Regions from separate parts of the Homo sapiens genome. Here region 1 is linked to region 2. The links come from fine-mapping of genetic effects on gene expression. A gene starts in region 2. The other region holds a variant in brackets. All regions are shown on one strand. Distances are from middle to middle. Region 1 has its middle 25 kb from the start of SPOCD1. Region 2 holds the start of SPOCD1 (SPOC domain containing 1).

Region 1 (15,567 bases), 23 kb before region 2:
AGGAATACCCTCAGAATTGTTCCACAGAAGGTAGGAAAGCTGACGCATTTATCCATGATTCCAGTCCCTCATTGCTGAGGGCTGCCGCAGGGACATCAGCTTCCTGGACTTCCAAGCTGTGTCTGCTGGAGGGTTGAGTGGCCTTCTGCAGCTAAGGAGAAAGCCCGGAGGCAGAAAAGCTGAGGGAAGCTGCAGGGCGCATTTGAAATGGGGTTCAAGCAGGGTGCATGCAACTGTCCCCCCTGGATGCCCTGAGTCAACTGGGCCAAGCAGGTGTGAGGAGCGCCCCACCAGGGTCTGTACAGTGTCTCAGCAGATGAGTTCCTGCTGCAGGTGCACTTCTGGCCTTGCTGGCTGCCTCCAGCAGATGTAAGAGCTCTGGCCCTTACCACATACTGGAATTTCTCTGTGTGGGCTGTAACGAATGTGTGCCCCCCCCCCCAAGACGTGTGGGTGTGCGTGTGTGCACACATGTGTGTGCGCGCAGGTGATATGAAAGCGCTTTGTAGCCCTGCCTTGCTCTTAGAAGTACCCGATATTTCTCAGAGTGGTTTTCCTGGACCCAACCCATTTCCTCCTCGCAGACAGGGGCTCTGTGACACTTGAGCTTGGTCATGCCACTTCCCTGCTTAAGGTCATCCAAGCAGCACCGATGGCTCCTGAGTTCCCAGACCCTGAGATGCTGGAGTGGGGCTGGAGGATGGGCCATTGCTGGGCTGCCTAGATCAGGCACCTGGGCCCGTGGATCTTACAGGGGTCTCGAGAGGTTGATGGGGTGTTGAGGTCCTGAAGGGAGTACCATGGAGGTGGCCTCCTCCACGGGCCCCTGCCCTTGTCCTGGTCTCTGTCTCTCCCTATTTCTCACCTCTGCTTCTCTTGGTCTCACTTTTCCCATCTCTCTGTCTGCCTCAGTGTCCCCCTCTCTCCCTCCCCCCGACCTCTGTACCAGTTTCCCTACCCCTGGCCCCACTTCTGTCTCGGTCCTGGCCCCACCCTCCACCTGCCTCTAACTCCATTGCTTTTTGCACACCTCCTCCTCCTTCACAATAGTTTTCTTTTTCTTTTCTTTTTTGATGGAGTCTCGCTCTGTCACCCAGGCCGGAGTGCAGTGGTGGAATCTTGGCTCACTGCAACCTCCGCCTCCCAGGTTTAAGCAATTCTCCTGTCTCAGCCTCCCAAGTAGCTGGGATTACAGGCGCACACCACCATGCCCGGCTAAGTTTTGTATTTTTGGTAGAGACGGGGTTTTGCCAGGTTGGCCAGGCTGGTCTTGAACTCGTGACCTCAAGTGATCTGCCTGCCTCGGCCTCCCAAAGTGCTGGGATTACAGGCGTGAGCCACTGTGCCCGGCCCCTCATAATAGTTTTCTGCCTTCCTATCGAGAGTCAGTTTTTCAAGACAAAACAAAACAAAACAAAACCCACCACAACTTTAAAAACTCTTAGAAACATATTTTAATCACAAACGTGCAACACAGAAACATTAAGTTGGATAGAGGAAAAAATTCATAATCCCTTCACCCTAACTCGGCAGCTGTGGTCAATTTTGATGATTCCCTTTCAACCTTTTAAAATGACTTTTTCAATATAGCATCCTATACTTTGATTTTACATTCTGCTTTTTTAATCTAAATAATAAATCCCTTCAGTGGCTTCCAGTTTCTAAGCAAAACCAAAGCGCCTTTATGATGGCCTGAAAGGCCCTGAGTGATGTGCCTACTGGTTCCACCTCCCCTCTGGGGATCTCCCTGGCGTGCCCTCCTCCCAGTCCCCCTCCCTCCTCCCTGCCACTCTGCTCCAGCTACAGTGGCGTCACTTTCCCAAACATGCTAGGCATGGGCTTCCACCTCCCCCAAGGGCCTTACACTGGCTATTCCCTTTTCCTGGAATGTCTTCTCCCAAAAGTATGCATGGGTCACTTCTCACCTCTTTTATGGGTCACTCAAGGATCGTGTTCTCAGTCCAGCCTATCATGATCACCACCTAAATGGCAACATCCCCAACTTTACTCCCAATCCAGTTTTTCATAACAATGATGTTGCAAAACCATTCTACACACACATGTCAGACAGGCCCCTTTGCTCATGACTTTCTCAGCCATCCCCTGGTTGGACATTTTGGTTGAAGTGGAATTGTTGGGTTTAAAACTGTACACATTTAAAATTTCAATAGAATTACAAAATTGCCCTTTACTAAGCCTTCACCCATGGATAATTCCACCAATGGCAAAGGAAGGTGCTTTTTTCCCTTATCTGCCTTTTAAATTTTTGCCAGTTTGCTAAGCAAAATATATCTTATTGTTGTTTTAACTTGCATTTTTCTAATTAGAACAGTCACTGAACATCTTTTCATATACTTATTAGACATCTGTATTTCTTCTGTGAATTCTCTTTTCCATATCTTTTGCCAATTTAATTATTAGGTTGTTGGCCTCCTTTTTGTTGATTTATAGGAGCTCTTTATATATTGTGGATCACTTTAACCAGGGTAGATTATACCATTATCTAGTTCTACCCAAGGACAGCTTGCAGGCAGTCTTCACTCCATATTACTGCCTCCTCTGTGGGTATCAAAGATCCCACCCTTGGTTTGGGAGGCTGGTGAATGTCCTGAGCCATGTGAAAAGGGAAGGCATTACTAGGGATAAGTGTGGATGGGGGTCCTCAGCAAAGTATCAGGACATGAGTAGGTATCACGCCTGCTGAGCACTCCAGACAGCTGTCAATGAAGGCCCTCGTCAGACAGTGCAGAGCTGAATGGCTGATATGGTTTGGATTTGTGTCCCCCCTAAATCTCATGTTGAATTGTAACCCCCAATATTGGAGGAGGGGTCTGGTGGAAGGTGATTGGATCATGGGGTGGACATCCCCCTTGCTGTTCTCGTGATAGTGAGTTCTCATGAGATCTGGTTGTTTAAAAGTGTGTAGCACCTCCCCTTCACTCTCTTCCTCCTTTTCTGACCATGTAAGATGTGCTTGCTTTCCCTTCACCTTCTGCCATGATTTTAAGTTTCCTGAGGCCTCCCCAGCCATGCTTCCTGTACAGCCTTCAGAGCCATGAGTCTATTAAGCCTCTTTTCTTTATAAATTACCCAGTCTCGGGTAGTTCTTTATAGCAATGAAAGAATGGATTAATACAATGACTAATGTGGCTCTTCAGCCAAGGTGGCCTGTGGTATCCAGCTGAATGCTCACAGAAGGTCTGCTGGTGATGGCCCAGTCCCCAGGAAGCTCCCCAGTAGTGGTGACGGAGTGGACTTAGCTGTCTCTGGGCACTGACTCCACTCCTCTCCTTGGGTCCCACAGGTCCAGTTCCCCATCCCGGATCCCCCTGACCTCTTCGAAGGTCACTCTCACTCCTACTGCCTTTCTCTTTCCCAGCTCAGTGACCCCATTTACTTCCCTAGGGGAGACACGACCTGGGTCTTCTCATTCCCTCTCAATCCATCGTTAAGGCATAAATTTTACCTTCAGCTTCCTCCAAGGCCTTCCCTTTTGATTTTCAAGAGCATTTTCTTCTCTCAGCAAAAGCAGCCTCTTGCAAATCAAAAGACTTTGCCTTTCAAAAGTGTGATTTCTGATGTGGGCTTCAGTAGACTATCCAGAAAGTTAAAAAAACAATGACATCCAAACACTGACTGTTTCTCTCTCTTTATATTCCTGCTATAAAAGCACAAATTCTCCTAGGTAATTTTAAATCTCTGATTGATGTGAGGAAGTGGGAAAAATAAAAGCAAAATTGTTATTATTTCAAGATATGTTTTTGTTCCATTTCTGCATGTCTATGGTGGGTTTGTTTTCCCCGCCTGTTATTCATCTTATAACTTTGCTCATCGAGTCTTCTGTCATTCAGAAGTTAAATGTTTTTATGTAGTCAAATCTGTCCACCTTTCTTACTTTTCTTCTAATGATTTTATGGGTTTTTTTTTTTTTACATTGAGTTCTTTAAATTCAAGGGACTTTGTGTGTCTGGTGTGAGGTAGAGTTCAAATTTTCTATTTTTAAAATTGGAGAGCCATTTGTCTTAATGCCATTTATTAAATAGTCTATCTTTTCCTCATGGATTTGAAATGCTACATTTATGATTGATAGATATAATTTATCTTGTTTTATAAGGTATCTTTATTTCTGGCTTGACAGTTTTCTTGTTTTTATTCATTAAAATTTTTTTCTTGTGGGGAAGGGAGAATGGGGAGTTGGTGTTTATGGGTACACAGTTTCAGTTGGGAAGATGAGATGGAAAGTTCTGGAGATGGATGGTGGTGATGTGGTTATACATCAGTGTGAAGGTACTGAATGCCATTGAACTGTACACTTAAAAATGGTTTAAATGATAAATATTATGTTACATATATTTTACCACAATAAAAACTACTGAAAATTTTTTCTTGGATATTCTGTTGTTGTGTATTCTCTTTGTATTTTTTTCTTTCCGGATTAACCTGAGAATCAGCTTGTCAAATTCCATTTAAAATGTCTTTATTTTTAATTTTTTTAGAGACAGGATATTGCTCTGTCTCTCCCAGGCTGGAATACGTGGCGTGATCAGGGCTCACAGCAGCCTTGAACTCCTGGGCTCAAGGGAGCCTCTTGCCTCAGCATCCTGAGAAGCTGAGACTACAGGCTCCTGCCACCATGCCCAGCGTTTTTTTTTTTTTTTTTTTTTTTTGAGACGGAGTTTCGCTTCACTCTTGTTGCCCAAGCTGGAGTGCAATGGTGCAATCTCGGCTCACTGCAACCTCTGTCTCCCGGGTTCAGGCGATTCTGCCTCAGCCTCCCGAGTAGCTGGGATTACAGGCACGCGCCACCACACCCAGCTAATTTTTTGTATTTTTAGTAGAAATGGGGTTTCACCACGTTATCCAGGCTGGTCTTGAACTTCTGACCTCAGGTGATCCGCCTGCCTCAGCCTCCCAAAGTGCTGGGATTACAGGCGTGAGCCACCATGCCTGGCCTATGCCCAGCTAATTACATTTTTGTTTTTTTTTTTTTTTAGAGACAAGGTCTTGCTATGCTGCCCAAGCTGGTCTCAAATTCCTGGCCTCAAGCGGTCCTCCCATCTTGGCCTCCAGAAGCATTGGGATTACAGGTGTGAGCCACCATGCCTGGCCAAAAAATGTCTTTGCTATTTTGATTGGAATCACATTAAATTTGTAGATGACTCCGAAGAGAAATGACATCTTTATAGTACTGAATTTTTCCACCCAGGAGCATGGCAAGTCTCTCCGTTGATTCAGATCGCCTTTTATGACCTTCAGTAAAGTTTCATAATTTTATTCATTTCAGCTTATTCCTAGATTTGTGATGGCTTGTGTTGCCACTGGGAATGGAATTCTGAGTATGGCCCAGGGACTGTTGCTCAGTTCTATCCCCAGCCCAGCCTCTGGGATGCATGACTGGCTCCAAAAGACGCCTGGGACAGGAAGTACCAGCTGCAAGAGTCATTCACTGTTGCAAGCTTTGGCAATAGGAAGCAGGTGGATCCAAGTTAGAGGTTTGGCAGCCAGAGGGAGGAGAGAGGCTGGGATGAGCTGAAGGAGCTGGCAAGGTCAAGAGGAGGGACCTTCAGGATGAGGGGAACCAGAGCTTGTAATCAAATGGGTCAGAAAGAGGGAGAATCTGAAATGCTGGAGATCAGGGCTGATGCTCAGAATGAATACTGATGTAGCTCAAATGCCTCTATCACGCTGTAGAACAGATTGTGGCTTTGGAGCTAGGAGATGAGAGTTTGAACCCTGACCCTGTCACTAACTGTTTAAGTCACTTAGTTTCTAGGAAACCCAGTCTCCTCACCAGCAAAATAAGGGTGAATTCTAATTATATGTTTAATTGTTTAATTATGTGTCTGTCTTGCACTGGACTGGAGCTCCACAAGGGCAGGGACCATGTGGGTTTAATTCATTAATGTGCAGGGCTGCAGCCAGCGCATGCAGTGCTTTTGAGGGAATTAGAAAAAGGAATCCTTTGGGGCAGATGCTGCTCTCTGGGCCCACAGCTTGGCAAACGGTCCCCGGGCTGGATCTCAGCCCTACTTGCCCCTGGGCTGTGTGCCCTTGTGCCAGGAACAGCCTGCCCTGGTGTTCAGTGCTTAGCACAGGCTGGCACCGGGGAAGTGCTCACACAATGTATTGAGTAAATAGATGATTAGATGTGGTGGTTGAGAGAGAGAGAGAGAGAGAGAGAGAGAGAGAGAGAGAGGAGCCAGGTATTTCTGGGAGCCCTTGAGGGCTTCTCACTTATGCTCAGAAAGAAGTCCTCTGCTTCCAGGTGCTGATTAACATGGAATTTTCCAAGTGCTTCATTTCATGTATTTCTGCAAGGGCCAGAGATGGTGTCCACTAGTCCCAAGGCTGCGACAGGAATGGACTAGTCTGATGACCTGATACGATAGACCCCCATTTGCACAAGGCCTGGGGAGCCTCCATGAAGCATTCTGCCTAGGGAAGGTGGGACCCTGACTTGGTAACAAAGCCTTGAGCAACCCAAGGAAATGCTACCCAAGTGCCAACCCAAGGAAGAGCAGAGAAGAACATTCTAGGCAGGGGGATAAAGATCCAAAAGCCCTGCTGCTGCACAGAGGTGGCTCGGCCCTTTGGAGAGCTGAGCGTTGGCCAGTGTGGCTGGGCCTCCAGGCATCGCTTCATAGGACCTTCTTTCATTTGGTGGCCTTTGGGATTTCCTGCAACTGTCCTCTTCTTTGTGAACTTTATGAAGTTCGCATAACTGAGACATACCTACCGCACCTCTGTATCTGCCAACGCATACTCCAGCTCTTTGCACGGGGCCAGCCCAGAGGTTGATAGAGTCATCCCACGAAACAGATTAAGAATCCCAGCTCCGGCCGGGCGCGGTGGCTCACGCCTGTAATCCCAGCACTTTGGGAGGCCGAGGCGGGCGGATCACGAGGTCAGGAGATCGAGACCACGGTGAAACCCCGTCTCTACTAAAAATACAAAAAATTAGCCGGGCGCAGTGGCGGGCGCCTGTAGTCCCAGCTACTCGGGAGGCTGAGGCAGGAGAATGGCGTGAACCCGGAAGGCGGAGCTTGCAGCGAGCGGAGATCGCGCCACAGCACTCCCGCCTGGGCGACAGAACGAGACTCCGTCTCAAAAAAAAAAAAAAAAAAAAAAAAAGAATCCCAGCTCCACTGTGTATTTCCTGTGGACTTTGCCAATTCCTCTGAGCCTCCTCTATCTGTAGAAAGGAAATAGGAATATCCACCTTTCCAATTTGTTGGGAAGTTTCTGCCCTCAGTAATAAAGGCAGATAGTGTAAGAACAAAAGAAAGACAATTTAAAACTCCAGGAAAAACATAAAGATGAAGAAAGAGGGAAATATACAAGCACCTTCTTTGACTCAGCAATGAAAAATACGTAGATGGTCACAGTAATCCTTAAGGTCTTTCTTTTTCTGTGCTGGTGGGAGGCTTCAATACAACGCTGAACAAAAAGTAGCAATAGTAGGCAAGTTTGCCTTGTTCCTGACTTTGCAGGAAATGATTCTAGTGTGCACCGTTAGGTATGACTGTTATAAGCAATTGTGGGAATGGCTGAATTCTCACAAAATCTCCGAACCTTTTCTCATTGCGAAGGTTTCAAGATATCTCCTTGTCTCCTTGAGTTTTCCTGCTTCACTCATTCTATGGCTCCACATTGCCTGTGGGATAAAGTTTGAGCCTTTTTTAAATTTTATTTTATTTTATTATTATTATACTTTAAGTTTTAGGGTACATGTGCACAATGTGCAGGTTAGTTGCATATGTATACATGTGCGGTGCTGGTGCTTTTTTTTTTTTTTAGATTGAGTCTCACTCTGTCGCCCAGGCAGGAGTGAGTTCAGTGGCGAAATCTCAGCTCACTACAACCTCCACCTCCCAGGTTCAAGCAATTTTTCTGACTCAGCCTCCCGAGTAGCTGGATTACAGGCGTGCGCCATTAAGCCCAGCTAATTTTTGTACTTTTGGTAGAGACAGGATTTCACCATGTTGGCCAGACTGGTCTCAAACTCCTGGTCTCAAGTGATCTGTCTGCCTCGGCCTTCCAAATTGCTGGGGTTACAGGCGTGAGCTACTGCGTCCAGCCAAGTTTGAGCCTCTTGAAAGACCAGTGTCCAGGCTCTCTCCCTCTTTCCCAACCCTGAGCCTTCCGGGTTTACCCATTTCTCCCATTCCAAACACCTGGACATTTCAGGTCCTATCCATGATGACAGCTTGGCCTCTGCCTTAGAATATCTGCTCCGTGCCTCCATGCCCACTGCCTTTGCTCACGCCCTTTCCTTTTTCTTTCTTTTTTATTTTGCTTTTTTTTTTTGAGACGGAGGCTGCTCTGTTGCCCAGGCTGGAGTGCAGTGGTGCGATCTCGGTTCACCGCAACCTCCGCCTCTCCGGTTCAAGCAATTCCCTTGCCTCAGCCTCCTGAGTAGCTGGAATTACAGGCG[C/T]GTGCCACCACCCCCAGCTATTTTTTTGTATTTTAGTAGAGACAGGGTTTCATCATGTTGGCCAGGATGGTCTCGATCTCCTGACCTCGTGAACCACCCGCCTTGGCCTCCCAAAGTGCTAGGATTACAGGCGTGAGCCACCGCGCCCGACTGCTCATGCCCTTTTCTTTGCCTGGGATCCCCTTCCTCTCAGTTACTCTGACTCACCTTCAAAGGCCAACTCATCTCTGCAAAGACACTTTCCCCTCACCCTTCTTAGCATTTGGTATAAGACAGTTCCGGACACAGGGCCCAACACCTTCTCTAGTCTTTAAGAATCTGTTTAAGCCAGGCATGGTGGCTCATGCCTGTAATCCCAACACTTTGGGAGGCTGAGGCAGGAAGATCACTTGAGCGGGGAGTTGAAGACCAGCATGGGCAAACTAGGGAGACCCCATCTCTACAAAAAATTAAAAAAAAAAAAATTAGCCCGGCATGGTGGCACACACCTGTGGTCCCAGCTACTCGGGTTGGGGGAATGTGGTGGGAGGATCGCTTGAGCCCAGAAGGTCCAGGCTGCTGTGAGCCGTGATCACGTCATTGCATTCCAGCCTGGGCAACAGAACAAGACCCTGTTTCAAAAGAGAGAGAGAGAGAAAAAAAAAAATCTGTTGGATAAATGTGTGAATGAACCCCTAAGTAAAACTCTGGGTCACCATAAGGAAAAAAATCCTATTCTTCCAACAAATCCAGACTGTGCAGCTGCCTCAGCCTCCAAACTTCCCACACATGTTCAAAAATTTTGTCTTTTGCCTTTCTCCTTCAACAACAGTTTGGCTGAAAATAAAATTCTTGAGTCACACTTTCTCTCCTTGATGACTTTGTAGGTATCTGTCTATTGTATGCTAATGCTGGATGTTGCTGTAAAGAAGCCAGAGGCCAGCCTGGGATTTTTAAGTAACTTGTTCCTTTATGTTTAGATTCTCAAAGGAATCTTTCTTAACTTTAAAATCTAATACTTTTTAAATAGCATATATATGTGTGTGTGTGTGTGTGCATGTGTGTGTGACAGAGTCTTGCTCTGTTGCCCAGGCTAGAGTGCAGTGGTGCAATCTCAGCTCACTGCAACCTTTGCTTCCTGGATTCAAGCAATTCTCGTGCCTCAGCCTCCGGAGGAGCTGGGATTACAGGCATGTGCCACCACGCCCAGCTAATTTTTTGTATTTTTAGTGGAGATGGGGTTCCTCCATGTTGGCCAGGATGGTCTTGAACTTCTGACCTCAGGTGATCCACCCACTTCGGCCTCCCAAAGTGCTGGGATTATAGGAATGAGCCACTGTGCCTGGCCAATAGAATATATTTTGATGTGGATCATTATATTATAGAATATTGTTTTGATACCATTATTTGAGTTTCCTTCTTCAGTGACTTTGACATGTGTATATGGTTTTTTGGGGTCATTGTATTTTTAGTAGAAATGGGGTTTCACCATGTTGGCCAGGCTGGTCTTGAACTCCTGACCTCAAGCGGTCTGCCCGCCTCAGCCTCCCAAAGTGCTGGGAGTGAGCCAGCACAGGCGTGAGCCTCCACACATGGTCCACAGTGCGTCTTTCATTTCATTTTCTTGAAAGCTCCCCATCTTTCCTGCCTCAGGGCTTTTTTTTTTTTTTTGAGACGGAGTTTCGCTCTTGTTGCCCAAGCTGGAGTGCAATGGCGCAATCTCCGCCTCCCGGGTTCAAGCGATTCTCCTGCCTCAGCCTCCCGAGTAGCTGGGATTACAGGCATGTGCCACCACTCCTGGCTAATTTTGTATTTTTAGTAGAGACGAGGTTTCTCCATGTTGGTCAGGCTGGTCTTAAACTCCCGACCTCAGGTGATCCGCCCGCCTCTGCCTCCCAAAGTACTGGGATTACAAGTGTGAGCCACTGTGCTCGGCCTATTTTATTGTTTTTAGAGACAGGGTCTCACATTTTCTCTCTTATCATTTAAACTTTAAAATTTTTTTCTCATTTAATTTTTCTTTCTTCATTTCTATCTTACGTGTTGCATCAGTGCGTTCTCTTTTATGTTACTTTTGGTTTGACTTCAAGGTTATGATGAGCTATGATTGTGCCACTGAACTTCAGCCTGGACAACAGAGTGAGCCTCTTTCTTCTGTTCTTCGCCTGGCTGACTCCTACTCACCCTCCAGATCTCAGCTGGAAAAGTCCACTCCCCAGGGAGACCTCCCTGACTCCCCTAAACTCAGCAACCTGGGATTCTGTACGTTTTTTCCTGGCGCACAGGGTCAGCACACATTTTCATCCAAGGATGGACAGTAGGGGCACTCTGTCAGCCCACAAGGCCTTGTTAGGATGATAGCACAATTTCTATTTGGCTTTCTGAAATACTGACAATAGTACTGGGGTCCCCATGACACGGGTAACTAGAGTTCCTGGGCACCTTCAAATGAAAGGAGAGTCTTGGTGAGAGGGGTGGAGGAAATGCCAGATGCCTCCTGTGGGCTTTAAATCCAATGAAGAGGGACAGAAAATTCAGCAGGGCTGTGTCCTGGGATTGTTTGGGCAAAACCATGAGTGTCGACCAGGAGCAGGGTGGGGTTCTGGTCCATGGAGCTCTCTGGAGGAACAGAGACTAAGCTGCCTTCCTGAGACAGCTTTGGTTTTTCTTTTAATTGTGTTTTAATTGCGCAAGTGACATTTAAACAGCACTAAAGGCAATGTTTAAAGAGAAATAAAACTATTGGATCACATCCATCTTACACATCTGATGAGTTGGAAAGAGCACCGAACATGGAGTCCAACACACCAGGGTTGGCACGCCTCTCTGCTAATTACTGCCTGCACCACCTCAGGCAGGTTTTCTTGCCCTTCTCTTTGCCTTAGCTGCCTTACCTGTAAAGGGGAATGACTCTTAGCTCACAGGGAGCTGGGGAGAACTGGAGGATTCAGTGAGATCGTATGTGTATAAGCCCTGGGCATGGAGTCAGGGCTATGGGGGCACTCAGTAAGGTTTCTCTCTTTTATCAAGGCAACTGTGTTCATTTTCTTATATTCTCTGCCAAGCTTCGATCAAGTCCAGATGAACATTTCGCACACGGTGATGATGCTTTAAGTTTAGTTCTGCAATCTGCTTGCAAACTTTCTATGTCATAAACACTCGTTTCAACATTTTCATAATTATTTTATGGTGGAACACCATGCCATTGAGCCAATATATCATTATTTATGTAACCATTCTTCTGCCATTGGACATTTCTCAGTTATGGATGGTTCTATATTTAATTCTGCATTCTATGATACTGTTGCTATCATTTGTAGCTCATTTGTGGAAGACTGAGTATTCTTCCATATTTTACTTACTATTTCTATTTAGTTACTTAAATTGCCTGCTCATGACCTTTGTACCCATCTGTCTTAGCAACTCAGATATTTTTTATTGATGTGTATAAAATCTTTACACCACGTAGCTATTAGCCATTTTCCATTTTCCCCACTCCCAGGTGACATTTTAGTTTTAGTTATTTTTCTATTATACACACCCTAAACGTTTTATCTTTCCATCTTTGCATTTGTGATTTCTTTGAGTTTATACAACAAATATTATGTGAACATCTGATCTGGATGGCAGGTGCATGAAGAGGTATGGGAGTAAAGGACACTCCAGTTCCTGACTCCAGAAGGCCTCAGTTAAGTTGGGAATACAAACTGGAAAACAATTACAATATTGCCCTGCTAAGTTCTAGAAGAGTAAAGAATTGCAACAGCAGCAGAGGTTGTTTGCACGCTCCCTCTCTCTCTGTACCGGGCCCCATTCTAAGAACTTGCATATACTATCTCATTTAAAACCACAACAATCCTGTGATTTAGCTACTATTTTTAGCCCCATTTTACAGACGAGGAGAATGATCCTCAGAATGGCCACACGACTTACCTAAGCACCAACAGCCAATAAGAGCTGAAGCCAGTATTCGAAATCAGGCAGTTGGACTTCAGAGCTTGCCTTCTTAACTACCATACAAAACTAGCTGTTAGGGCAAGGATGTGGTGGTGATGCCAACAGAGGTGATAGGCATGGAGGTGTACATCAAGGAAACCCTCCAGGAGGAGGTGAGTCAAAGCTGAGAATAGAAAGACAGAGACAACTTCACCATCAGGCAAGGGGGTGTGGAGGAACGGACATTCCATGAATAAGGAAGAGCTCTTCCAAAGGTTTGGAGACGTAGCCCCTTGAGAGATGGTAAGCTGGCCAGAAGCCTCAAAGTTGAGGTGGTTCTATTATTGTTTACGTTTCCTTTATCTGTTTCTTCATCACAGGCTCCATGTTAGGTGCTGGAGATACAGTGATGAACAAGATATTCAAGGTACCTGCCTACCTGGAGTTTACAGTCTAATTGAGGGACACAGGAAGGAAGCTGTACTGACCATTTATCTTTCACTGCTGCTCAACAATTTAAAAAATTCCTGTCTGTGAGACTCTGTCTCAAAAAATGAATAAATAAAATTAAAAGAAAGAATACATGTAAAATGCTTAGCACACAATAAACACACAAGTATTGGTTCCCTTTCCTTTCCTCTTGTTTTCTGGAGGATTTTTACTTATTGTGGAAAAGAAAGCAATCCTTTCAGCATTTCCTTTTGTGTGTGTGTGTGTGTGTGTGTGTGTGTGTGTGTGTGTGTGTGTGTTTTCTTTTCGTTTTTAGAGAGGTCTTGCTCTGTTGCCCAGACTGGAGTGCAGTGGCGTGATCATAGCTCACTGCAGCCTTGAATTCCTGGGTTCAAACGATCCTCCCCAGTAGCTGGGAATACAGGTTTTTAAACGTTTCTGATGCAGCAGGACAGCTTGCCTGAACTTACAGTTGATTGGCTGTCTATTGGTGAAGAACTACTTCTAATTAAATTCTCCAGATTTTTTCTTCTTTAACATAACTTGTTTTTAGCTTAAAATTTCCAACTTCTTTTGCATTCGAACTACTTACTAGGGACCCAAGAAAGCAATCAAGTGGAAGACGTTGGAGTGGGATTCCTGATATCTTGAGTTCCTCCTCAGAGCCAAGTGAGCCTCCCTTGCAGCTAGGGTGCAGGCATGTGACCTTGGTTCCTCCAATCATCCTTGCCCACCTGAGACGCCAACTGAGTGATGAGCTATGCATGGGAATAGCTGTGTGCAGGGCATCCTTTTTCTGCCAGCCTGGTGGCAGTTAAAGCAGTGTGGCCTGGAGTCAGTGACAGTGGTGGCAGGTCCTCCATGAGTCTGATTCTGCAATATGCTTCTTGGAGAGGCTCTTGAAAGCTGCATCCAGATCCTGTTTCTCTAACATCCCTAAATAAATTTTCCTTCTACGGAAACTAGCCAGAGTGGACTCTGTTGTCTACATGCAAGAATACTAATAAACACGCAAATAAACAAATACATATGGAGCTGAACCTTGAACAACACACGTTTGAATGGTGTGGTCCACTCTCATGCAGATTTTCTTCTGCCTCTGCCACCCCTGAGACAGCAGGACCAAGCCCTCCTCTTCCTCCTCTTCAGCCTACTCAGCATGAAGACGACAAGGTTGTGAAGACCTTTATGATGATCCATGATCTGTTTCCACGTAAGGAGTAGTAAATGTATTTTCTTGTCCTTATGATTTTCTTAATAACATTTTCTTTTCTCTAGCTTACTTTGTGGTATGAATACAGTATATAATATATATAAAACATACAAGATATGTGTTAATCAACTGTTCATGTTATTGGTAAGACTTCCAGTCCATAGTAGGCTGTTAGTAGTTAAGTTTTGGGGGAGTCAAAAGTTATTCACATACGTGGATTTTTGACTATGCAGGGGTCAGTGCCCCCATGTTATTCAAGGGGCACACACTGAGGAACTAACAGTTTGAGAGGTTAAGAGTGTGGCCTAGAGTCACCCAAAGCTATAGCCGGGACTGAAACCCAAGAGAATGAGAATCGAGAGCCTGGACTCTTATAGGATGCTGTCAGATCAACGCCCCCACCTGGTGACAGCAGTCCTATATGGGTTACTCGTATCCTCAGGTGATCATCCTGCTCAGCGTGGGCAAAACATGAATTTCTTCTCGCTTGTTAGGTGCAGAGGTTGCAGGTGGCAGGGAAGAGAGCCTTTGCATGTAGTGCCTTGGCCCAGGGCTCTTGAGCTCTTGCAGAAATCTCCCTTGAGGACTGCAATGTGATGGAATTGTGTATGTATTTATTTAATTCATTTAGGGAGAGTTTTGCTCTGTTGCCCAGGCTGGAGTGCAGTGGCATGATCTTGGCTCACTGCAACCTCTGCCTCCTGGATTCAAGCAATTCTCATGCCTCAGCCACCAAGCATCTGGAATTACAAGTGTGCACCACCATGCCCGGCTAAGTTTGTATTTTTATTTTTATTTATTTATTTATTGAGACGGAGTTTTGCTCTTGTTGCCCAGGCTGGAGTGCAGTGGCACCATCTCGGCTCACTGCAACCTCCGCCTCCTGGGTTCAAGCTATTCTCCTGCCTCAGCCTCCCAAGTAGCTGGGATTACAGGCATGTGCCACCACACCAAGCTAATTTTGTATTTTTTAGTGGAGATGGGGTTTCTCCGTGTTGGCCAGGCTAGTCTTGAACTCCCGACCTCGCCTCAGCCTCCCAAAGTGCTGGGATTACAGGCGTGAGCCACCGCACCTGGCCAATTTTTGTATTTTTAGTAGAGACAGGGTTTCTATGTTGGCCAGACTGGTCTCGAACTCCTAACCTCAAGTGATCTGCCCACCTCGGCCTCCCAAAACGCTGGGATTACAGGCATGAGCCACCATGTTCCTTTGTCCTGCCAAAGGAAGAGTTTTAAAAATGAACTGAGGGTTCAGGTCAAGAAAGATTTAAAATAACAATGGTAGGCCAGATGCAGTGGCTCACAGCTATAATCCCAGAGCTGGGACTGTGTAAACCGGTGCCTGGCCAGGATTGTGTATTTTTATTAATGTTATTGTCATGAAGTTCTGTATCCATCTCAGGGTCAGAAATGAGGGAGGGACAGGGGTTTGGAGCCTGATAGACCAGTCCCAGGAAGGGAAGGAAGAAACAACCCATGAGTGTGGCCCTGAGGTCATGGACCATCCAGCCCCTGCATGTCTGCTTGAAGAAGGCTGGCTCAGTGGCCCTGGAAG
Region 2 (15,567 bases):
TGAAAACGTTACAGAAATTTCAAGTCCTATATATTTATTGTAGAGTAATGAAAAAACACAAGAGGCCGGGTATGGTGGCTCACGCCTGTAATCCCGGCACTTTGGGAGGCCAAGGTGGGCAGATCATGAGGTCAGGAGATTGAGACCATCCTGGCCAACATGGTGAAACCCTGTCTCTACTAAAAATACAAAAAAATTAGCCAGGCGTGGTGGCGGATGCCTGTAGTCCCAGATACTTGGGAGGCTGAAGCAGGAGAATGGCGTGAACCCGGGAGGCGGGACTTGCAGTGAGCCGAGATCACGCCACTGCACTCCAGCCTGGGCGACAGAGCAAGACTCCGTCTCAAAAAAAAAAAAAAAGAAAAGAAAAGAAAAAAAAAAAAAGAAAATGCAAGAGGAGAAAAGAAGCAATTGAGAAAGAGCCACTGTCAACATTCTGGTGGATTTCCTTCCATTCTCTTCCTTTGCTTAACAGCACATTATGACACTTCCTCCACATCATTCAATATTCTTTGAAAACACTACCTCTCTCTACCTTAAAATTCTTTTTTTTTTTTTTTTTTTGAGATGGAGTCTCGTTCTGTTGCCCAGGCTGGAGTGCAGTGGCACAATCTCAGCTCACTGCAACCTCCACCTCCTGGGTTCAAGCGATTCTCTTGCCTCAACCTCCCGACAAGCTGGGATTACAGATGCCCGGCAACACGCCCAGCTAATTTTTGTATTTTTAGTAGAGACGGGGTTTTGCCATGTTGGCCAGGCTGGTCTCGAACTCCTGACTTCAAATGATCTGCCCGCCTCAGCCTCCCAAAGTGTTGGGATTATAGGCGTGAGCCACTGTCTCCAGCCTTTAAAATTCTTAAAGTAGTAATTTGGCAGTGGAGAAGTCTGGAAAGCACTTTCTACCAAGCGGTGGAGGTTAATATCACCTGTGGCTACCACGCACCCCCTCCTCTGATGTGAGAAGGCATTTTCCCTGTGCGGCATTCTTTCCAAAACCCCTGAGACCAGTTTAATCTGGAGAAAAGCATCAGGGAAATCCAAATTAAGAAACACTCTACAAAATACCTGACGATTACTCCTCAAAACTGTCAAGGTCATGAAAAACAAGGAATGACTGAGAAACTGTCACAGATCAGAGGAGACTAAGGGCATGGTAGCTAATGCAACGTGGTAGCCCGCACGGGAGCCTGGAACAGACAGAGGACCTGAAGGGGAAAACTGGTGGAATCCACATAAAGTTGGAGTTTAGTTAATAGTAATGTACCAATGTTGGTTTCTTAGTTTACGCAGAGACCACAGTAATAGAAGATGTTAACAATGACAGAAAATAGGTGAGGGGTAGATGGAACTTCTTATATTTTTGTAACTTTTTTGTAAGTCTAAAATTATTCCAAAATAAATAATTTATCAGGGAAAAAAAATCCACAAACCCCCAAACAGTCTTTCCTTGGCTTCCTCGAAGTCGTGCCATTGTGTTCTTCCTCCCTCTCTGACTGCCTCTGGGTGTGTTTTCATATTAAACGACAGGCACCACCTTAGGCCCTGTGAATGAGCTGGCCAACAAGGCAGACCCAGTCTGGTTCTCGCCCTTGTGGGAATACAGTCTGGCGGAGGGACTTTGGATGGAGCTGGACTTGAGGTTGGACATAGTTCCGCTTATCTCCAGCGGAGCAATCCCTAGCAAGTCATGGATTTGAAGCCCACCTTTCCTCCTCTGTAAAAAATGAATAATGAGCAGGGTGCAGTGGCTCATACCTGAATTCCCAGCACTTTGAGAGACTGAGGCAGGAGGATCACTTGAGCCCAGGAGGTCACTTGAGCCCAAGAGTTAGAGGCTGCAGTGAGCTGTAATCATGCCACTGCACTTAAGCTAGGTGACACAGCATGACCCTGTCTCTGAAAAACAAAAAAAAAACAAAAAACCCCACAAAACTATATTAGCTAAATACTACCACAAGGAAGCAGTTACCAATATTAATATCAGAAAAACTGAATTAAAGCAGAAGAACATTAATAGGAAGAAAAGGCACATTTGGCACTGATGAAAGTTATAATCTCCAAAAAAGATGTAAAAATTTATGAATTTGCATGCTCCTAAAAAAGTGTTTTTAAATATATATAAAGCAGGAACTTACAGAGGTAAAGGGAAAAAATTGACACGTTCGTAATAATTGTGTGAGATTTAAAACATTTTTTTTTTTGAGATGGAGTCTCGCTCTGTTGCCCAGGCTGGAGTGCAGTGGCACAACCTTGGTTCACTGTAACCTCTGCCTCCCGGGTTTAAGCGATTCTCCTGCCTCAGCCTCCCGAGTAGCTGGGATTACAGGTGCCTGCCACCATGCCCAGCTAATTTTTGTATTTTTAGTAGAGACAGGTTTTCGCCACATTAGCCAGGATGGTCTCGAACTCCTGACCTCAAGTGATCTGCCTGTCTTGGCCTACCAAAGTGCTGGGATTCCAGGCGTGAGCCACTGTGCCCAGCCGATTTTTTAAAATTTTATTTAAAAGTTTTTTTTAGAGACAGGGCCTCACTCTGTTACCCAGGTTGGAGTGCAGTGGTGCTATCATAGCTCACAGAAGCCTTGAACTCCTGGGCTCAAGCAATCCTCCACATCCTAGTATGCCTTCCTGTAGAGGATAGAAAGCCAAAACTCTTTCACAGATTCCCTTACAATGAGTGTTTCAGATGTGAATTATTTTCCAACACTTACTGCTATTGTGCAAGATCTGAAAAGCAGATGAGAGGCCAAGACCATTGTCCTTTTCCGTGGGCTGTTACTGCTTCCAAGCACAACTGTGGAGCTATCGAGTTTGCCCGCATCAATGTCTGGCCCCTAGTGTTGTGTATGTGGGCAGTAGAAGCAGCAGTGGCAGTGCCTGTATTAGACCTTTGTATTGTTACCCTAGCAGTGTATTTATAAATACAGTTCTAATGTGTGTTCTAGGCCCAGCCTCGGGTCCACTCCTATAGCCTGCCAGTGACTTTTTTTTTTTTTTTTTCATTTTTTAGATAGGGTCTGGCTCTGTCACCCAGGCTGGAGTTCAGTGGTGCGATCTCGGCTCTCTACAACCTCTGCCTCCTGGGCTCAAGCCATCCTCCTACCTCAGCCTTCTAAGTAGCTGGGACTACAGGGATGCGCCACCACATCCGGCTAATTTTTGTACTTTTTGTAGAGATGGGGTTTTGCCATGTTGCCTGGGCTGGTTTTGAACTCCTCTAAGCTCAAGCAGTCCACCCGCCTCGGCCTCCCAAAGTGCTGGGATTACAGGCGTGAGCCACTGTGCCTGGCCTCCCAGTGACTTTTGAAACACCCAGTGCCCTGTATTAAACCTCATTGTGCTTAAAATATCTAGAGTAGTTTTTGTTTTCTGCATTGAACACTGATTTCTGTAGATTCAAGTTACTATAGATTACTATGGATTTGAAAAACATGAGTAAAAAGCTTGAGGTAAGAAAAGCTTAAACTGTTGGCCAGGTGCCGTGGCTCACACCTGTAATCCTAGCACTTTGGGAGGCCGAGGTGAGTGGATCATGAGGTCAGGAGTTCGAGACCAGCCTGGCCAACACAGTGAAACCCCCGTCTCTACTAAAAATACAACAATTAGCCGGGCACGGTGGCGGGTGCCTGTAATGCCAGCTACTCGGGAGGCTGAGGCAGGAGAATTGCTTGAACTGGGAGGTGGAGGTTGCAGTGAGCCGAGATTGCACCACTGTACTCCAGCCTGGGTGACAGAGCAAGACTCTATCTCAAAAAAAAGAAAAAAAGAAAAGAAAAAGAAAAAAAAAGGAAAAGCTTAAACTATTAAACTGAGAATTTCAATCATTTTTCAAGCATACAATGAATATTAACAATGACAGTATATCAGATCACAAAGGAAATCTTAAAAACTTAAAAAAAAAAGCAACATTATGTAGACAATTTTAACTGATCACAATGCAGTAAAAGTATATTTTCATTTTCTTTTCAATAGAGAGACGGTCTCGCTATGTTGCCTAGGCTGGTCTCAAACTCCTGAGCTCAAGGGATCCTCCAGCCTCAGCCACCAGAGTAGCTGGGATTATACACGTTCATCATCATGCCTGGCTGAAACATTTATTTATGTATGATTTATTTATTTTCAGTTAGAGATGGGGGTCTCACTATGTTGACCAGGCTGGTCTTGAACTCCTGGCCTCAAGTGATCCTCCTATCTTGGCTTCCCAAAGTGCTGGGATTACAAGCATGAGCCACCATGTCTGGCCTGAAACTACATTTATTTTTAATAATAACAGGTAGCCACCGGGTGTGATGGCTTATGCTTGTAATCCCAGTGCTTTGGGAGGCTGAGGCAGGAGGATTGCTTGAGCCCTGGAATTCAAGACCAGCCTGGGCAACATAGAGAGACTTCATCTTCACAAAAAATAGAAATGTTAGGCACTAATACTTTGTTTCCCTAGACACCCTGTCTCTAGGCTGGGAATACACGCATGCACCACCATGTCTGGCTAATTTTTGTATTTTTTATAGAGACAAGGTCTCACTGTGTTGTCTGGCTTGTCTCAAACTCCTGGGTGCAAGTGATCCTCCCACCTTGGCCTCCCAAAGTGTTGGGAGTGGGTCACTTTAGGCCACAAGTTTGAGACCAGCCTGGGCAACATAGTGAGACTCTATCTCTCCAAAATAATTTAAACTAATTTTAAAAATTAGCTTGAGGCCAATTAGTAGGCATTTAAGGCTGCAGTGAGCTATGATCACACCACTGCACTTCGGCCTGGGCAACAGAGCAAGACCCTGTTTCTTAAAAAAAAAATGAAAGAACAAGAGTAAACCAAAGGAAATAGAAGAAAGTAAATAAGAAAGGTAAAACCAGAAGATGGTGAAATAGAAAATATAATAACAACATCATAAAAAACAGAGATAAAAAAGCAAAAATCTGATTTACCAAAAAACCCTAGGATGACTGAGAGAGAGCAAGCACAAATAAATAGTATTAGGAATTAAAAGGGGACTGTAATCAATACAATAGAGATTTTTGAATCATGAGAATACTATTAATATCTTTGCAACAGGGTCTCACTCTGTCACTTAGGCTGGAGTGCAGTGGCACAATCTTGGCTCACTGCAGCCTCCATCTCCTGGGCTCAAACCATCCTCCCACCTTAGCCTCCCAATAACTGGGACTACAGGGAGTATGGGACATGCCACCACTCCTGGATAATTTTGTATTTTTTGTAGAGACAGGGCTTCACCATGTTGTCCAGACTGGCTCGAATTCCTGGGCTCAGGTGATCTGCCGCCCAGGCCTCTCGAAGTGTTGGGATTACAGGCGTGAGTCACCGCCTCCAGCATGGTGGCTCATGTCTGCAATCCCAGCACTTTGGGAAGCCGAGGTGGGAGGATTGCTTGAGTCCAGGAGTTTGAGACCAGCCTGAGCAACATAGCAAGATGCCGTTTCTACAAAAAACCAAAAATTTAGTCAGACATGGTGGTAGGCACCTGTAGTCCCAGCTACTCAGGAGGCTGAGGTGGGAGAATCATCTGAGCCCAGGTGATCATATCACTGCACTTCGGCCTGTACACAAAGCGAGACCTTATCTCAACAAAAAAAAAAGAAAGAAAAAAAAGAAAGAAAAAAGAAAACGCAATAAAAATATTAAAGAATAGAATAATTTAATTAAAATGTGCAATATTTTGATGAAGAAAAATCACAAAAATGAATTGAAGGCCTGGCAGAATGGAAATAAGGTACATTTATGGATGAGAAGACTCAGTATTATTCAATTTTATCCCTAATCTGTAAATTCGATGAAATTCTAATTTAAATCCCAGCACAATTTTTCAAGGATCTTGACAAAATGATTCTACGGTATACAGTTAGCTAAGACGATTATAAAAAATAGAAACCAAGTTGAGGGGGTGGAGCTTGCTCCCTAGATAGCAATATTTATCACAAAACCATAGAACTAAAACAATATTGATCAAGAATAGACAAATCGATCAATGGAAGAGAAAAGAAAGCCAATAAATAGGCCAGGTGTGGTGGTTCACGCACTTTGGGAGGCCGAGGCAGGTGGATCACCTGAGGTCAGGAGTTTGAGACCAGCCTGGCCAACATGGTGAAACCTCATCTCTACTAATAATACAAAAAATCAGCCGGGCATGGTGGTGGATACCTGTAATCCCAGCTACTTGGGAGGTTGAGGCAGGGGAATCGTTTGAACCCAGGAGGCGAAGGTTGCAGTGAACCAAGATCCTGCTACTGCACTCCAGCCTGGGCAATGAGAGAGAAACTCCATCTCAAAAAAAAAAAAAAAAAAAAAGGAAAGCCAAGAAATAAATTGCATTCTTTAATGGGAACCAGGTATATCGCAGAGGTGCTGTCATGAGTCAATGGAGCAAACAGCTAATGATGAGGCAAATAGCATTAGGCCAAAACCTGGGCAAAACCTTACTTTATTTTTTTTTTATGACAGAGACATTTTAGAATACCAGGAGAAAGGCTGGGCCCAGTGGCTCACACCTGTAATCTCAGCACCTTGAGAGGCCGATACGGGCAGATCACTTGAGGTCAGGATTTTGAGACCAGGCTGGCCAACATAGTGAAACCTCATCTCTACTTAAAACACAAAAATTAGCTGGGTGTGGTGGCGTGCGCCTGTAATCCCAGCTACTCCGGAGGCTGAGGCAGAAGAATCGCTTGAACCCGGGAGGTGGAGGTTGCAGTGAGTCGAGATCATGCCACTGCACTCCAGTCTGGGTGATAGAGTGAGACTGTCTCAAAAAAACAAAAAAATAAAAATAAAATAAATAAATAGAATACCAGGAGACAGAGAAACTGGCCAGAGACTGGCTGGCTTCTAAAACCAGTCCTTGCTAATCTTGAGCAAATTACTTAATCTGTCTTGGCCTATTTCCTCATCTGTCAAATAAGGATAATAACAGTTCTTACCTCACAGACTTGATGTAAGGATTAATATAGGTAAATTAATACAGGCAAATACAGGATTAATATAGGTAAAGCATTTAGACCAGTCCCTGGCTCAAAACAGCACTACGTAAGTGTTAGCCATTCTTTATCTCTATACCATGTGGAACTGACAACATCTCCACTCCCGTTTTCTCTGCCCAATGTGGGAGACTTCCATTATCCAAATGGACCAGAATGGCTTGGTTCACTGGTCTTAGGGAACCTGGTCAACTTTCTGCCATCATGACCAAGACATTCCTTAGAGGGAGGGCTTCTCATTTACAAAAACTATTTCCTTAGAGCAGTAATTTTGGTCATTGGTGACATCCAGTCTCTACTCTTACCTCATCTATGACTCTGACTGCCAGATCATGACAGTTTTCAATATGGATTACCCAATAGCTTGGTTTGTTTTTTGTAATAAACCTTGTTTTTTAGAATAGTTTTAGATCTACAGAAAAATCTGAAGATTAGTACAGGGAGTTCCTGTGTACTCCAGACTCGGTTTCCCTTGTTATTCATATTATGCTGTTTTTAAAATTCCACATTATATCATTGAGATACATTCATGTTGATATATAGATCTAATTTATTGAGTCTAACTGTGATTTAGTATTCCATTGGCCTGGAAGGTTCTCACAGTCTCACCTGGCACAGGTTTAGTGCCAGGGAATTCCATCTCCCTCGCAATCAGACTTATCAAATCTCTGGTTCTGGCCGGGTGCAGTGGCTCACGCCTGAAATCCCAGGCCAAGATGGGAGGATCGCTTGAGCTCAGGAGTTCGAGACCAGTCTGGGCCACATAGTGAGACCTCGTCTCCACCAAAAATAAAAAAAAAATTAGCTGGGCATGGCGGTGCATGCCTGTAGTACCAGCGACTCAGGAGGCTGAGAGGGGAATATCACTTGAGCCTGGGAGGTCAAAGCTGCAGTGAGCTATGATTACACTACCACAACTCAGCCTGAGCGACAGAGCCAGACCCTATCTCAAAAAAAAAAAAAAAAAAAAAAAAAGCCAAACACCACTGTTTCTGCAGTAAAAGTATTTACATAATCATAACATTATAAATGTCATTTGGCTTTCAGTGTTAAGAATCAATCTACAGGTAAACAACGGTAAACTGAATTATCTTTACCGAATAGAATGTAAATGCTATAAACCTCAGCGATACAAAAATAAAAGCTTAGTTCATGGATAACGGCAGAAGCAGGGAGGGGACATCAAGGGAAATTATCCATTTCACACAGAGAAGAGTCAAGAGATACAATATACAGAAGAAACAGACATTTAAGAATAGTATTCAAAGTGATAATAGAAACCAATAGTAAAATTTAAAATATAAATATAAAAAAGAGGGCCAGGCACGGTGGCTAACGCCTGTAATCCCAGCAATTTGGGAGGCTGAGGTGGGTGGAACACGAGGTCAGGAGTTTGAGACCAGCTTGGCCAGCATGGTGAAACCCTGTCTCCACGAAAAATACAAAAATTAGCAGGGCATGGTGGCACGTGCCTGTAGTCCCAGCTACTCGGGAGGGTGAGGTAGGAGAATCACTTGACCCTGGGAGGCAGAGGTTGTAGTGAGCTGAGACTGTGCCACTGCACTCCAGCGTGGGCGACAGAGCGAGACGCTGTTTCAAAAAAAAAAAAAAAATATATATATATATATATATATGAAAAGCGGAAGAGAAAGGGGGAAAGGGTGGTTAATAAAATCACCACAGCAGGAAGTCAACAGATACAACAGACACAGTTAAAATTAATAAATCAAGTAATAGAGGCATGAGTATATTATTTACAGTTATGAAATTTAAAAAATTAACATGATGACAAACATGGTAAAAAACAAAAAACAAAACACAGTTGTTTCCAGGAGTTGGGGTATTGGGAAATGAGAGATAGCTTTAAACTTTTTATTTCTAACCTTCTATTGGAATTGATTCTGCATTTCCATCTACATTAATTATATTTGAGATTTTCTTTTTAAATTAGGCAAGCACTATTCACAATAGCAAAGACATGGAATCAACCTAAATGCCCATCAATGGCAGATTGGCTAAAGAAAATGTGGTACATATACACAATGGAATACTATGCAGCCATAAAAAAGAATGAGATCACGTCCTTTGCAGGAACGTGGATGGAGCTGGAGGCCATTATCCTTAGCAAACTAATGCAGGAACGGAAAAACCAAATATTGCATGTTCTCACTTATAAGTGGGAGCTAAATGGTGAGAACACATGGACAGAAAGAGGTTAACAACAGACACTGGGGCCTGCTTGAGGGTGGAGGGTAGGAGGCAGTAGAAGATAAGAAAAAATAAATATTGGGTACTAGGCTTGATAACTGGGTGACGAAATAATCTGTACAACAACCCCCGTGACACAAGTTTACCTATATTAAAAACCTGCATATGGACCTCTGACCCTAAAATAAAAGTTTAAAAATAAAATAAAATAAAATTAGGCAAAAAATCTAGGTAATTCTGACATTGTCCTACTGGCTCAGGGACTATTGCGGTAGGATCAAGTTAAACTCTCAGGCAGGCAGCCAAGGCCCCTCGCTGCCCCATGCACCCACCTACCTCTGCTTGGGAGCCAGGATTGGCACCTCCTCCAGGAAGCCCTCAGGAGGAAGAGGGCGCCCTCTGCCGGGGCAGGAACGCCAGCACGCCTGGGGAGCAGCCTTTTGCTCATCATCAGGGACTCCGCCCCTATCCCTCAGCAAGGGCCTCCCTCCCCCGCATCACGTGATCTCAGCTCCTTTTCAGCTAGTGGGTGGAACCCCAGGAGGGAAAACTCAGGGAAGCCCAGGTGAGAGCGACGCGACCGATGGGGCCCGGATTTCTTGGATGCTGGGGGACTGTCCCAGTAAGGCTTGGGAACCTGGGTGGGGCGCCTTTCAGAACGGGACCGATGGGAGAGAGACGAGAAGGGTTATGGGCACGAACCCCGTTCAGTATCTGCTCCTTGCGCAGTGTGAGAACTGGGAGAGAGACTCCTGGCCCTTCCACTTCCTGTGCTTCCTTGGGTGAGTGTCTTAACATCTCAGAATCTCAGTGTCCTCACCTGTGGCTGCCAGTATGAAATGAAATAAGCACATAAGTCATAAATAAATGGTATCTTATTAGGTCCCATTTAAGCGAATGTGTGAACTCTCAGAGACAAGAAGACCCTGGAGGCCACTGTAGCTCGGCCCTGTTTGGAGGCAGGCCTCTCCACCCTCACCCAGGACACCAGCTCCTGCTGGGTGCTCCCCTCCCTGGAGTGCTCACCCCTAGGCCTCAGGAGTGGAAGGGTCTGGGAGAGCTGGCTGGAAGAGGGGCTCCTCCCAGTTCCCACTGAACGGGCTGACAGGTCGGACTCTCCAAGACAAAGTCTCCTCTTTCTGTCTCCACACAGGGCCCGTGTTGTGCTTTTGGCCCAGGTAGGTGGACAGACATGTCCCAGGCGGGGGACGTAGAAGGCCCCAGCACAGGAGACCCTGTGCTCAGTCCCCAACACAACTGTGAGCTTTTACAGAACATGGAAGGAGCCAGCTCCATGCCAGGCCTGTCACCAGATGGGCCGGGAGCAAGCTCTGGGCCCGGAGTCAGGGCTGGCAGCAGAAGGAAGATCCCCAGGAAGGAGGCCCTTCGAGGTGGCAGCTCCCGGGCTGCAGGTGCTGCTGAGGTCCGGCCAGGGGTCTTGGAGCTGCTAGCTGTGGTACAGAGCCGGGGCTCGATGCTGGCTCCTGGGCTCCACATGCAGCTGCCCTCGGTGCCTACTCAGGGGAGAGCTCTGACCTCCAAGAGGCTCCAGGTTTCTCTGTGTGACATCTTAGATGACAGTTGCCCCAGGAAACTTTGTAGCAGGTCTGCTGGCCTCCCAGAGAGAGCTCTGGCCTGCAGGGAGAGGCTTGCAGGAGTGGAGGAGGTGAGCTGCCTCAGGCCCAGGGAGGCCAGAGACGGTGGAATGAGTTCTCCAGGGTGTGACAGAAGAAGCCCCACACTCAGCAAAGAGGAGCCCCCTGGAAGGCCCCTGACATCCTCACCAGACCCAGTCCCTGTGAGGGTAAGAAAGAAATGGAGGAGGCAAGGGGCTCATTCAGAGTGTGAGGAAGGGGCTGGTGACTTCCTGTGGCTTGATCAGAGCCCTCGTGGGGACAACCTCCTGTCTGTGGGAGACCCTCCCCAAGTTGCTGACCTGGAGTCCTTGGGAGGCCCTTGCAGACCTCCCTCTCCAAAAGACACTGGGTCTGGGCCTGGAGAGCCAGGTGGAAGTGGGGCAGGATGTGCCTCAGGGACTGAGAAATTTGGATATTTGCCCGCTACAGGGGATGGGCCCCAGCCAGGCAGCCCCTGTGGCCCTGTCGGGTTCCCAGTGCCCAGTGGAGGGGAGTCCCTCAGTTCAGCTGCACAGGCTCCTCCACAGAGCGCAGCACTGTGCCTGGGGGCGTCAGCACAGGCCTCTGCAGAGCAGCAAGAAGCTGTGTGTGTCGTGCGGACTGGCAGCGATGAAGGCCAGGCTCCAGCACAGGACCAGGAGGAGCTGGAGGCCAAGGCTCAGCCAGCTTCCAGGGGAAGGCTGGAGCAAGGACTCGCTGCCCCCGCTGACACCTGTGCCAGCTCCCGGGAGCCCTTGGGCGGCCTCAGCTCCTCCCTGGATACTGAAGCCAGCAGGGCCTGCTCAGGCCCATTCATGGAGCAGAGAAGATCCAAGGGCACTAAGAACCTGAAGAAAGGTCCAGTGCCCTGTGCCCAAGACCGGGGCACAGACAGAAGCTCAGACAACTCCCACCAGGACAGGCCAGAGGAACCCAGCCCAGGAGGCTGCCCCAGACTGGTGAGCTGAGTCTGAGAGTTTGGGATAGGAAGGGCCTGGCCATGTTTCTCAATACCATACTTGGCAGTGGAATTTAATAAAGCTAAGCTAGATGGGCGCTTCATGAACATTCTCACATCCCTATTAACTAAACTGGGTAAAATGAGGCCCACAAACTGGGAAAGAGAAAATAAACTACATTCGCTGAATCCTTGTGAGGGGTCATTATCTTTTGGAGTCAGTGAGTCCTGGGTTCGAATTTTGCCTCTGCCCACTTCCTAGCTGAATGACTGTGGGATGTTTTCTTAACCTCTCTAGGTTTCCTCATTGTAAAAAAAGGATACTAATTGCAGCTTCATGGGGTTGTTTCAAGGATTAAATGAGATTATGGTATAAAATAATGTGCCTAGGCCTGGTGCAGTGGCTCACGCCTGTAATCCCAGCACTTTGGGAGGCAGAGGCAGGCGGATCACGAGGTCAAGAGATCAAGACCATCCTGGCCAACATGGTGAAACCCTGTCTCTACTAAAAATACAAAAATTAGCTGGGCATGGTGGCACATGCCTGTTCCAGCTACTCTGGAGGCTGAGGCAGGAGAATCACTTGAACCTGGGAAGCAGAGGTTGCAGTGAGCTGAGATCGCACCACTGTACTCCAGCCTGGTGACAGAGCAAGACTGTCTAAAACAAACAAACAAACAAAAAAAAGGTGCCTAGCACAGCACAAGGCACAAGGTAAATTGCTTAATTCGTGTTAAATTTGCTTTTCCTTTAGTGTTCACAGTTACCCTGTAAGATAGGCGTTAGCCCCATATAACCAGATGGGGAAACTGAGGCTCGGAGGGTTAATAATATTCTCCAGGCTCACATAGCTGGGGAGTCAGTGACCAGCCATGTTCCCTATATCACCACTTCCCTTTCCTTTGTTCTTTTACTTATAATCATCATCATTTTATTAATAATCATAGCTAACATTTATACACCAAAGGCAGAAGAAGACTCTACTTGTTTTTGGTGTATATTTCTCACATAGTTGGATTTTCATCACATTTATTGAATATGCATGATGTGCTAGATGTTTTTGATTTAATCTTCACACGACGTCCACGGAGGTGAGGTTACAGACCCAGCTGGTGAATGGGAGCAAGGCTACAAGCCTAGGCGGTCTGTCTTGAGAGCTCACTGCACTGCCTTCTCTGTGTATTTTCTGTGTTATCGGCACAGTCGTAACAGCATCTGGCTTGCTTAACATGTGCTGGATATTGGGCTAAGCACTTTATCTGCAATCTTTGTAACAAGCCTATGAGGTAGACTCTATTGACATATACCCATTTCACTGATCTGAACACTGAGGCTCTGAGAGGTGACATGAGTACTCAAGGCCAAACAGCCAATTAGTAAAATAGAACCAGTGAGCTGTTTTCCACTATGCATCAAGCCTTTTTACCTATAAATAGGCTCCTATTATGCCTTATTGTTCCAGGACTTTGCTTGGTTTTGTAAGTTCCGTAGTATTTGAAGGTCTTTCCCAGTGGGTTCACCTTGTTCTGCCGAATTTGATCTTTTCCTGAGCCCTGCATCATAGCTGTCTATGGATGTATTTGTCGCAGGCACAGGCGCTGTCGGGATGAGGGCTGGGACTTCCTCTTCTCATTTCCAACCACTGTAGTGTAGTGAGGAGCATGAGCCCTGGAGGCCAATAGGCTAACATTCAATCTTGACTTTGCCACTATCTGAACAACCGAGGTGAGTGGCTTCACCTTTTCAAGTGTAATTCTCTCATCTGCAAAATGTGGGTATGAAGAGTGCTTACCTCCTAGGGAGGTGGTGAGGATGAAATGAGATGACACATGTTTGGCATTTAACACAGTGCTTGGTGCAAGAAAAATACTCAAATAGGTTACCTGTTAGTGACATAAGCAATTTCGTCCTGCTGTAAGTAGTGCAGGGGTGACCATCCTTGTGCGTCTGGCTCCTCCCTTCTTCACATGATTTATTTGGACCAGATGCCCAGAATTGGGATTCCTGGGTCTGCAGCCTTTAAGGGGGCTGGTTTGAGTGCGGTGGTGGAGCCAGCTTCCTGCCTGGCTTGACTGGAAGCAGCCCATGACTGCTGGCTCCTCCAGGCTCCATCCTTGACTGCGGCACAGCCCATCATCCCACAGCTTTCCAAACAACTCGTTGCCATGACAACCAGTACCAGCTGCGGGAGAAGAATTGAGTCTGGGCTGTGACAGGGACAGGCGGGTGGTTGCAGACAGGGCTGAGTGGGGCCTGGGCAATGGGGGGCACAGTGCCCGGCTGGTCTGGAGCCCCGTTTAGGGCCTTAGCACCTTCCCCTGGAGACAGCCTGGCTTGTGGCAGGGGCAGACAGGTTCAAGGTCAAGCTCTGCCTCTTAGTACAGGGTGACTTTAGACATGTCTTCAGACATTTAGATGAGTTTAACTTTTTTTTCTTCCTTTCTTAAGCTCAGTGGCAAGAAGACTTTTTTTTTTTTAATTTACTTTTTTTTTAAGATGGGAGTCTCGCCCTGTCACCCAGGCTGGAGTGCAGTAGCACAATCTTGACTCACCACAACCTTTGCCTCCTGGTTTCAAGGGATTCTCCTGAGTAGCTGGGACTACAGGTGTGGGCCACCATGCCCGGCTAATTTTTGTGTTTTTAGTAGAGGCAGGATTTCACTATGTTGGCCAAGCTGGTCTCAAACTCCTGACCTCAGGTGATCCGCTGCGTCGGCCTTCCAAAGTGCTGGGATTACAGGCATGAGCCACTGCGCCTGGCTGCAGAAAGACTTTAGACATTTAGAAATGTCTCTTCTCTGAATCTGAGTTGCCTCCTCTATGAAGTGGGGAGAATGAAGTGGGCCCCAGAACTGCCAGGAGTCTGATATCAGAGGCTGGCCGTGTTGTATTCTTCTGGCATGAACCAGAGACTCTTGGAGGAGAGATGGGAGGGGGACTGGATGCCATTCTCTTGTCCGTCCTGGGCCCCACAGTGGCCAGTGAGGTTTGGAGCTGCTCTATGGGTGGGATAGCAGTGGGTGTGTGTGTGTGGGGCAACTCTGCCAGTGACCCTGGGCTGCTCACATTCCACCAGTCATAACCAGGGAGGCACACAGCTCCTCTGGCCTGACCCAGAATCCCTGGTTCAAGGTATGCTGTCTGTAGCTGCAAAGTGTCAAGAGGTGAGTGAAGGAGGAGAGTGTCTTCCTAACAGAAGAGCAGCCTAAGAGGAGCTCGTTTCATTAGTGTGCCTACTATAGACTGAGAGCTTCAAGTATGTCATCTCATTTAATCCTTACATTAACCATTAAAGGTCAATGTCGGCCAGGCGTGGTGGCTCACACCTGTAATCCCAGCACTTTGGGAGGCCAAGGCGGGTGGATTGCTTGAGCTCAGGAGACCAGCCTGGGCAATGTGGCAAAACCCTGTCTGTAGAAAAAATACAAAGATTAGCTGGGCATGGTGGCTTGTGCCTGTAGTTCCAGCTACCCAGGAGGCTGAGGTGAGAGGATCACCTGATTCCAGGAGGTCAAGGCTATAGTAAGCTGTGCTGGTGCCCCTGCCTTCCAGCCTGGGCAACAGAGTGAGACCCTGTCTCAAAAAAAAAAAAAAAAATTCAACACTAATATCCCCATTTTACTAAGTAAGAAAACTGGGCTTCCGAGAAGTTAAGTGACTCACTCAGGCCACATCGCGAGTAAGTGGCCGAGCCAGGGTTTGACTCCAGTCCTGCATAACTTGACTGTTCACGGGGCTTTATTATAATTTGTTGAACAAGGAGGGGGCTCGTCCAGGGATCTTACAGTCTAGTGGGAG

The links. PIP is the estimated chance that this variant, and not a neighbour inherited with it, causes the effect.
Region 1: its variant is the best candidate, but not a certain one, in a credible set for the expression of SPOCD1 in atrial appendage (GTEx, PIP 0.87).

Annotation. Positions count from the first base shown.
Region 1 is chr1:31,833,575-31,849,141 of GRCh38, reverse strand. No RefSeq gene overlaps it. Among named protein-coding and RNA genes, the nearest start is that of SPOCD1, 25 kb to the right of the region's middle. RefSeq lists an enhancer at 307-356 and silencers at 10,627-10,810, 14,340-14,409. The variant C/T (reference allele first, on the strand shown) is at 8,435.
Region 2 is chr1:31,810,154-31,825,720 of GRCh38, reverse strand. It overlaps SPOCD1 (SPOC domain containing 1), which reads left to right and starts at 9,699. Exons shown (of 16, transcript NM_144569.7): 1 at 9,699-9,760; 2 at 10,349-11,770. The coding sequence starts at 10,388.